Linked DNA regions of Homo sapiens: region 2 is linked to region 1. A link means that fine-mapping ties the variant in region 1 to the expression of a gene that starts in the linked region. Tissue or cell type: skeletal muscle. Region 1 holds a variant in brackets; the other region holds the start of a gene. All regions are shown on one strand. Distances are between the middles of the regions.

Region 1 (5,395 bases):
TCACTATTTCATGTAATTGGAATCATACAATATTTAACTTATTGTGAGTGGATTCTTTCAGTTAGCATAATGTTTTCAAGATTCCACAATATTTTAGCATGTATCAGAACTTCATTTATTTTTATTGCCAAATAAAATTCCATTGTATAGATGTACCACGTTTTATTATCCATTCAACAGATGATGAAAACTTGGGCTGCTTCTATTTTTTGCCTGATATGAATAATGTTACTATGAACACTGGTGTAGAGGGTTTAGCATAGACATATGTTTTCGGTACTCTTGGGGTGTATACCTAGGAGTTGAAATGCTGGGTCATATGGTAACTGTATTTTTAACATTTTCAGGAACTACCAAACTGTTTCCCAAAGCAGCAATTTAAAAGCATAGAAAGCTCACTGTTCTTAGCAAGATTCAGCTATTTTTCTTGAATAAATTCTTCTTGGAACATTGCAAGCATTTGTTTAACTTTTGGAATTCTGAAAAAGTTTATTTTGACAATTGTTTGTGTTTTGGTTGCTTTTATGGAGGAGTAGATTTTTGGAGGTCCTTACTTTACCATTCCAGAAGTGGTCGCTCCTGCCTCGCAACCACTAAAATTAAAACAGTCTGTCTATGGAGGGCTAGAGCCACTAATGTGCTTTCAGGCCCAGAGTGAAGCAGAGGACTCAGCCTAAGGAGTCTGAATCTCCATGGTGGAAAAGTAATGAGAGGAGAAAGGAGCTATGTCTCAGAGAAGAGTGCACTAAAGTGACCTACTGGATAAATCACTTTTTATGTGGCTGCTTAGAGATATTGCCAACAGGTGTTCTCATATTTTTCCATGCATGTTGATGTAACCCTTCCAGTTTACAAGTCTCTGTTGCCTACAGACAACTTTCAGTCAATGCTCTCATTTTGGAGGGAAACCGTTGGGAAAGATAAAGAATTTCAGAAAAGTCCCATGCAAGACCTTTATATTAATTAAACCAATTTCTTATTGATTTATGTGAACCATCAATCACAAGATATTTGAGGAAGATTCAAAACAGTGAATGTATAGGACTGAATTTAAAACAACAACAACAACAGCAACAACAACGGCAGCAACAACAGCCCCCTGACCTGAGAGGAAACAAAATTTAGTTAGGGAATAATGGAAAACTTATAGAAATTATAAATTCTTCCAAATAATTTGAGAGAATATTGAGTCTCTAAAACAAGATTAGCATCTAAGAAAAAGGAACAGATAATAAGAAATAGCTTTTAAAATTAAAGTGTGAATGTGAAAGTAGAAAACTAAATAGAAGAGCTCTGAAATAAAATGGAGCCACAGGAAGAACAAATTAATTATTTTGAATATAAAGCCAAGACCTTAGCCAAGAAACGTATGACACAAAGATGGAGCCAATGAAAGAAATGTTAGGAGATGGAGGATACATTTAGTAGTAGCAGCATCTGTCGAACTCAGTGTTACCTCTGGCACCCAGTTAAGGCTTCTGCCTCCAGAACACATCTAATTCAATTGCAGATAGAACAATATCGATTTGTTTTTTTCAAAACGTTTCTTTCTTAATTCCCTTTTTCATCCATTAACTTAATAAATATTTTTTTAACATCTTTTTACATTCCTGTTACTGTGTTGACCCGGGGCATAGAGCAGACTTGGTTCTTGCCCTCGTGGAGTTTACAATTTAGATGATAGAGCAGGATGTAGGGGCTCTTGCTTTCTGTGCAACATTTAATATTAACTCTGCCTAGGCTGCTGGAAATGCACTTCTAAGATGTTTGACTGTTCTCCTATTAGTTTTTGAGGTCTGGTTCTAAGCTAAACAAACAGGCTGTCATTTGGGTTCTAGTGGCAATTTCTGTACTCCCTATAAGTATGCTTATTTTTCTTTAGTGTTTTTCTTGGATTAGAGAGAGGATTTGAGAAGACATTCTTGATCCAGATAAGTGAAAGGGAATTTAATATTAAAAGAAAAATAATATTTAGCTCTTTTTAAAGCTAGCAAGAAATCAGAGAAACAAGATAATCTTCCCTCCCTCCCTCCCTTCCTCCCTTTCCTCCCCTCCCTCCCCCACCTCTTTCCTTCCTCATAAAAAACCATGTTATATTGACAAGAACAGCACAGATCCATCTATTTTGAATTATAAGTTTTTAATTAGCATTTGTAGTTCCCTGAAAGATATTTTAGCTATTGCACTCATTTGTGGGTATATTACATTACAACTTCTCTTCACTTATTTTTATATTCCTCTGAATTCATTTTTAACCTTCAGACAAAATTTAGTTTTTGTTGGTATTCCTTTAATCTCTCCTAAGTCAGTATATGTGCATTCTAGCTTCCATACTTTTCAATAATTACTCTGAATGGGCGTTGAATGATGAATGGAGCCAACATATCCAGAGAATAGCTGACTTTTAGCATTTGCCTTTAACAGCACAATTTGCCAAATGCATCCTTTGGAATAGTGTTTTTATTTGTTTATTTATTTTTAACTGCTCTGAGTTATACACATTGTTTTTCTCCCAAGTTTTTGCTTCATAGAATTGTGCTTCTTAGTAAGAAGTGGCTCATGATTCTAATAGTCCCTTAGTATTACTTAAGTCTTTGCAACCACCAGACTCAGCATTCACCCTGACGCGATGCTCAGTTGACACTTGAGAGCAAGTGGGAAGAGTTCACCTAATG[C/G]CTCATCTAGGGTACATGCTGTTCCTATTGTATCTTCTTACTTACTTGGCAGTCCATTGGAACAAATTGTTGATTTTATTATCAAATCCATTATCATTCTGAACTTCTTACTATCTCTGCTGCTGCTTGGCCTACCCAGACCAGAGCAATGGCCTTTTGTTTGGTCTCCGATAATTAATTCTTCCTAATAGAGCCAGTGAGTTAAATATCTAGATGACATTGTTTTCATTTAAATAGGTAATAGACATACAAAGATAAAATTGAAAAGGCACAACAGCCTATACAGTGACAAGTAAGTCTCCTTCCTGCTTCTGTCCTCCAGCCATGGTTCCTCTCTACAGAGGCAACTACACATATTCCCTTTTGACTTATGTGCATATGTTCACAAAGCTGCTTCTTGCTAGATGAAGATCCAAATCCTTAGTATATTTCATATACTTGCATGAGTATATGTCTTCAGTTGTATTTCTCAGCATATTCTCTAGTTTCCTCTCCTCCAGCCACACTGTACCTAGACATATTCTTTTGTTGTAGATCCTACCTTGCTTTTCCCAAACTCTACACAACATATGCACATTTCTACCCTGAAGGTTCTTCCTCCTTCTTTGCACCTATTTAGCTCAACTCTCCCAGGTTAGACAATATCTTCTCAGAGAAATCCTCCCTGAACCTACAGTTCAGATCAGGCCCCTTTAAGACAATATTCATGTTTTGCTTTCATAACATTTATCACAGTTTGTATTTATATATTTAATGATCATTTGCTTAATGTCTTTCTCCTTTGCAAGACTGTTAGTAACATTAGGGCCTGTGTGTTGCTCGACATTGTTTACTCAGTACTGGCACATAAATAGTTAAGAAACATCTATTGAATAAATGCTCAAGAATCCTCATTTGCTTGTGGGAGGTATCTCTTTCATTGTAATCCATTCACTTATTTCTTGTCTACTGTTTTTTATATGGCCAGTCTCCTAGAATTTCTGTCCCCCGTGGATTTAATATGTTTTAACTCAGCAACTCTTAAATAAGCGTAAGTATTTTGGATAGTAAGAAAGGGGAAAAAGAAGTGAAAACTGTAGGAACACAAAGGATGATCCTGTCACTTCTGAGATAGACACACTGTATTTGAGCTACTGTACCAATGAGCATTATGATCAGCTTCTCTATGGAAGGTATAATTTCTCCCTTAAACTCTCCAAATATATGTGACTCCCAGCTTATGTGACTTTCGAACTCTAAGATCCACAAGGGCAGAAATTATGATCTATCTTGCTCACTGCTATGTTCCTAGAATTTACGACTATTCCTGTGAGGTAGACATTGACTAGATATTGTCTAACTGGAAGTTTAAATTGAATGTGGCCATATTGTGTATTTACAGAAGTATTGTAGGAAGAGGAACTTGCAGTTATTCAGGGAAACTCTGGCACATTATGTTACTAATGTCAAATACTGGGGAGACATAGAGAAGTATTATTTGTGCTCATAGTTTTGGCTCTTCTTTTCTCTAGTAAATGTAGTAGGTTTTGTCACAACATGATGGGTTTGCCTTGTAAGAAAAATAGAGATTTTGTTAGTCCAGAAACAATCATTTTATTTGACAATGTTGCAGTGTATCTGTGACACTGAGATGGAAATAATAATTTTTTAAAGTTTTCCAAACAGGGTAGGGTAATGAATGAATAAGGGAAATAGAAAACTAACCATTTTAAAGCTTTGGTTAGATGATTGATTAGTGCATATGGGCTACTTTGAATATACAGTATCTGCACTGGTTTATTTCTAATGGACAAAGAGATTACTAGTGTTATTATTTAAAATGAGAATGCATTTTCTCACGTAGATAGCACAATAAATATCCTGAGATTCATATGGCCCTCATGGAGGATCAGTCACTGACTGTGGTTTATATTTACTTTCTGTGCCTTTCCACAGTTACAGTTATCTTTTTTAAAGGTATTATTCCATTTCTTGGCTTTAGTAAGAGGTGCCTGTAAAAGAATTCTTTCATTTGAAATCAGTGAAACAGGAATTTATAAGCAAAGGAAAATGGATTGCTAAGAAATAAATATTTGTGAAATGACCCAAGGTGAGTTTTAAAAAATGTGTTTGGATAGAGCATTTCTACTTTATTTTCTTAAAAATCCAAAATTGTTGGTCTTTCACGGGGAACATCTCAGTGCTTTTAGGATAACACCTGTTGTTATGGATTTATTTTTGGAATTTTTGACCTCAAGTGTGAATGCTGCATAGCCTTGTGTCATGAGTGTTTACCTCGCTTATTTAGCCTGGCGCAGAGGTTGGGGGTTGGGGGTAGGATTCCTCAGATATGTATTCAGAAAATTAAATTACTTCTTAGTAGTTATAACATCACAATTGCATTTAATATTTATACAGTATCATAATTATCTGTCACCTCTTTTTGAAATCCATGCTTTTGTTTTCTTCTCATTGTGTAATAAAATGGCAGTTTCCAAAGATGGATGTCTTTAGTTTTTAAATGACATGTTGATTTTTTTCATGATATCTGCAAATATTTTTGTCTTTTTTGACCTCAGAACAAATGTAAAGCATTGATTGGAGCACACACAAAAGTTAGGAAATATGCTGCTTGGCAACTGAGTAAAAGTAAATATATAGTCTCTTAAACTTCCAAAAAAGTATACAATAGTACAGGATGGGTTCTATTCACAAGCTTTCTGTCTGTAACGTAAAAGATA
Region 2 (5,395 bases), 54 kb after region 1:
CTGGTAGCACCGTTTATTAAGCCATTAACAACAACAACCACCACCTCCAAATAAAAAATTCCACCTACTCATCAGCATTCTAACTCAGCATGTTGCCTGTGACAAGCGACACCCTGAAAAAAATGGTCCTTTGAATTGTCTTGCCAGGAAGGTGCTATTTCTGGTATAGTTACATGATTTGGGGAGACTATGGGTAAATCTTCCAGTCATACACAAATGTCCATCATCTGGCATTCGTAGGTGCTGATCAAATCACCAAACTCACTGGCACACACTGAGTGGCAACACCGGGGGCCTGGAGTGTTGGTATTTCTCAGACTGAAGTGGGCACATTACTGATCTCTGTAATCCACAAAATATGTATGTGAGCTTTACTAAGGTTAAAGAGTGAATCCACTGTTCTTAGGTGTCATCTATTGCAATTTTAAAATAAGGCGGGTTAGATTTAAGAATGTGTGTCTGGCATGCAAACTTTCCCTGGAAAAGGTCTAAGAAAAACTGAATTAAATACTGCAATGCTACATTATATAGGAGTTTGAAATCAGAGGGTTGAGTATCTACTTCAAGTCTTTTCCTCTTGGTTAGGAACTTAGGAGGTACCTCAAAATATCAGATCTGGTCTGTTTCAAAAGCAGCACTTTTAATAAATAGCAGAAAAGCAAATAAAACACTTTTTCCTTTTTGTAATAAATCATTTTGGTTTTTTTTATAGATTGCATGTGGCATTTGAGGCAGAGCGAGCAAAGCTGCCAATATTGCAAGCTGATGCTTCAGCACCTTTCATTTTTCTCTGAGCAGGAACCCTCTTCTTAAACTTGTTCATCTTACAGAGAGAAAATCGAAGCCACTGGCATATTGTCAGAGCTGCTTTATTGTCATCATTTACAAAGGTCACTGGAATTAATTGACTTCTTATATTACATGTTGTAAACTGACTCATTTTTTTGACACATTTATGGGAAAGTGGCAGGATCTAAGTGGCTGGTTATTGTCTTTTTGCTTTGGCTTATATTACAAACTAGGAAACCAATAATAGCTCTGAAATCACAGTTGTGGAAAAAAATAACCCACAGTTTCAAAGAAGCTGACTCTGTTAACTGTGTGGTTAGTTGAACTAAAAGAAGGCAGGAGAGAGCTCCAGAAGATGAAATACAAATGCTAGGTTTCTTTTACTGTCTTTCCAGGACCCAGTAAAGAGGGCAGTGAATGTTTCCATGAATATCCTCAATTGGTGTTGTCTGTTTGAAAGCATATTCTAAGTAGCTGGCTTCCCTTTACAAGATTGGAAGTAAAAATTAACCCACACTGAATTCCATGAATCATCAATACATGGATGCTCATAGAGTTTACTGAGAGTAATTCTGTCTCAAAGGCATTGCTTCTGAAACTAAAGATGAGAAATATATCAGTAATATTTATGGTACCAGAGCACACTATTTTCTAGGTAGATATTTTGAACCTTTACTTCTATTTTTGTTTTCACATTATCCCCTTTTCACTAAATTAGGACGGTTCTACTCATATTCATAGCCTGCTTTCACTGAAATTAGAGGCAGAGAAACAAGGACATATTGTTAAAAATGAATAAATTAGAGCCGAATTAAGCCATCCAGCTCAACAACAGCAAAGGGAATATAGCAGTTGGTTAGAACAAACAATTTTCTTAAATAGGAAATGTACTTTAAAGCCATCCTGCTGTGATCCTGTTAATTACCAAAGATTAGAACTCTTCTGGTTCATGGGATCCTTTCACCTAGTGTGTGGCAGTTCCAGCTGCATTAGCAATCAGACATTTGCACTGTCCCTTCAGACCAGCGAGGGGATGTTATTAAAGGGAAGTCATTTACCCCAGTCCGTAAGATGTAGCCTGGCAGAAATTCAATAACTGTTTGTGATATGCTCATTCTGCTACTCTGCTTAGTGGTTTAGCTCTTAACATACAACAGCATTTGCCTTAATTTGCATCCACTGGATGAGACAAAATAAAAATGCCCCATTTGGTGGGTTGATTTCAAAACAGAGAATAATGTGTGATCTGCTTTTCACTACAAATAATGTGAAGAAAAAGGAAAATTGCACCCCATCACCCGTGACTCTCCTCTCCTCTCTGTCTCCTCTCTGTCTTCTCTCTTCCCCATCTCCTTCTCTCTCCCTCTCCTCCTCTCTTCTCCCCCACTGTTCCCTTCTCTTCTGTCTCCCTCCTTTTTCTCCTCCCCCCAACACTGCTTTTTCTCTCCCACTCACATCCTCTAATGGGCATTCAAGCTAGTAAAATGCATGTTGGAGAATCTCACAAACACAGCTAGGCACACACAGAGCCAGCTGGGTTTTGCATGTGAATTTCTTCTCAAAAGTGCAATAAAAGAAAAATGCTCTTAGAATTCAGACAAGAAGAAGACATCAAAGGAGGATTTAGGTGTAAAAACATGATCATCGAAGAGACAAGAAATAGAACGTATTTTAAAATATATGTGTATTTTAAACTTACCTTGAAAAGCAGTTTCAGTGCTAGCCCACCTCCGATGTCCTTGCGTGCTGGATTCCTCAGTTCCTTGGTTGAGATAATCACATGGTTGTGTTCTTGCCCGGTATAAATAGGTGCATTTGTGTGTCTGTGTAACAAAGTGTACAAAATATATACTATAGATATGCACACATGCACGCAATCTTATCTCTCTATTTTAAAATATAAAGGAAGGCAGGAGGCTGCAGCCGGGATTCCTTCTTTTTCCTGGAACTCTTTTTCTCAGTCGGCAGGCTGAGGCTCTCAATCCAGTGAAGAGAGATCCTGTGAGCTGGCTTTATTTTTCCTTGTTTCCATGGTGGTTAGTGGTGCATCGTTCACCCGATCAGTTGTCACACTGACATGGTGCTGCCTGCTCAGCGGTCATTAATAACTGAACACCCTCCACTCCCCAGAGAGGAGCCAATCGCTTCAGACAGCCAAGATGTAGCACTCGCAGCTGCTCCAGTCTGGTTGGCTGAAACAAACTGTCTGTTCTATGACACTGCTGCTTAGGATACAAATAAATGAAACAGGCTTGCATGTTTTCCTAGGTATCATTTTCCTTCTTTTTTTTCCTTTCTGAGGGAATGTTGGGAATTTTTGACAAGTTTTCTCAATTTTAGGTTATCAGTCATTCAGAGAAATATGTTTTCAGTCTGCAAATAGAGAGGACACACTACTGATAAGGATTTCCTAAATATTAAAAACACCTGGTAGAGACTCAAACCTCCAACTCCGTCTCTGAAGTTCAGCAATGACTGCATTATTTAAGAAGAGAAGCTTGCAACTGTTTTGAGTGGCATTTGGTTCTCTATAGATCCTACTTAATTTAGCATATGTGCTTGGTGTTCAATAACACTTTTTTTTTTTTTTTTTTAGCAATGACATTTCTTGTCTGGATTGACCAGATTTTTAAAATAAAGCATATATTTGCCTCTCTGTAATTCACAACATTGGCATTTGAGGGGGTACTTTTTAAAAATATGTATTTCTAATTATACTCACTGACTTCTCTTTATATGATGTAATAAATCTAGGAGCTACATATGAATGGGTACATGTGTAGGTGTGTTTGTGTATCTGTGAGTGTGTGTGTGTATTTAGGATGTATTTTTTACCACTCTGGGGAAATATTTCGATTGTAATAAGTTAAATTATTTAAAAGACTATCTTTATTCTTAGGCCTATTAACTCTGAAAGGATATTTCCCAGGAAAATATACTATATAAGCCATACATGTAAAACATTTTTATTAATTACCAGAAATTTGGAAAACACAGAAACACATAGCAGTGCATATTTCTGAAAGAACATACATGAAAAATCAAAAAGCAGTTTTAAAAATGCATGTTTTACAACCTTAATTAGTATACTAGAGAAACATCTTGTTGAGGAGAATGGAACATGAGGATTAATATATCAACAGGTCAAAAGCAGGCTAGTCATGACTCCAACCCCAGTTTTGAGAGACTACCCTCTAGTGGAGTAAAGAGAAATGGCACTTATTAGATTTACTTAGGAAAAAAAAAACAAAACCTTCACATCTAATTGCTCCTTAAGTGCTTATTGACATGACATAGAACAATAGTTTGCAGTTATTATAATAATAATAATACCAGGAAAAATTTTAAACAGTAGGCTTGTCTTTAAATACTGAATATTTTCACTCTGTAGTTTTCTAGAAACAGTTCCCAAATGTTTTTTTCTATAAGAATTTATTCAAATGAATCAAAATAAGTTCAAGATAAAAGTAGCATCTCATTTAACCTAATACTTATTTCAGAATATTATTGTAAGGTTTTATTATTTACTGGATACTCTAGTATTTACTCAGAAAGCACTGAGTCAGTTCTGTATGTTAGGGATCATGGTTGAGTGTTGGGATGTTGTGTTAGAGTATATTTACATATAATTTAATGTACTTTTAATAATAGTAATAATCATCCTTCTTACCCCTTAATTTTAATCTAGCAAATCTTAGTTTCTTTAATATTCCAAATTATTTCAGTATCTGCAGGATTTATTTCCACATATGGAAGAATAATCTTAAAATTGTGATAATTATTTGTAAAAAGAGAATTTTTATTTATGCCATGGTATCTTAAGTGATTAATTTTCATTGATTGGTATTGACTGTATAATTGACAAGTCCAGTAATCAAACCAATTATAATGCACTCCCATAATGAAGGTAAGTTGTGATAGTCAGATACATGATTAAACTCCTCTCTTGGTTTTTAAATGAAACTGCAGTCATACCTAATATCTTAAATTTCAGTCTGTTTCAGAAATCAAGAAAAAATCTTTTCAGTTTTGATTCAGTTAGAATTGTTAAAGGTAGCCATTTATATGTTATCTTACATTATTTCATAGGAAGTTGTTTTAACTAAATGATCACTCTTTTGAAAGTGGGAGATCAGAGTGCTCTTCCTGCAATTGTCCTTTTAATGTAGGTACATGATAAATTTAAAATATTTTATACTCATTTTTATAAATTTAATATCATGGAGCACTAGAAATGAGATTTTAATGTGAAAGAGAAAATGACTCTGGCTTTGGATGAAAAGGATGGCGATTCTGTTCTTTGACTGGAATTTCTATCTTGTTCCAAGAGCATCAGCAGCTTTATGGAATCAGTGTGTGTTTTGGGTGTTTTTTCACTTATCAGGGCGTTCAGTCCTTAACTGTAAATATGAAATGTGGCTCTCTCCAAAGATACATGAAAAAATTATTTTGGTATCACATCTATATAATGAAGTACCATATGAAGACGTTACATTGTAATACAGTAAGGATTTTAGGGTTTTTGAATTAATACAATTGTGAGTGATCATCAAATGAGAACCATGGAATCTTAGCACACAGTTGGCACATTAAAGCCAGGATAGAG

Direction of the effects. Alleles are on the strand shown, and positions count from the first base shown. SD is a standard deviation of normalised expression in the study named.
With allele C in place of G in region 1, the expression in skeletal muscle of the gene that starts at base 2,866 in region 2 is higher (small effect, 0.23 SD a copy in GTEx).

The links.
Region 2: it holds the start of LRRN3, and the variant in region 1 is fine-mapped to the expression of LRRN3 in skeletal muscle (GTEx, PIP 0.99).

The regions. Positions count from the first base shown.
Region 1 is chr7:111,142,904-111,148,298 of GRCh38, reverse strand. The region is part of intron 3 of IMMP2L (inner mitochondrial membrane peptidase subunit 2); the gene reads left to right. Among named protein-coding and RNA genes, the nearest start is that of LRRN3, 54 kb to the right of the region's middle. The variant C/G (reference allele first, on the strand shown) is at 2,676.
Region 2 is chr7:111,088,598-111,093,992 of GRCh38, reverse strand. LRRN3 (leucine rich repeat neuronal 3) reads right to left here and starts at 2,866. Exons shown (of 3, transcript NM_001099658.2): 1 at 2,489-2,866. All of the region lies in intron 3 of IMMP2L (inner mitochondrial membrane peptidase subunit 2), which reads left to right.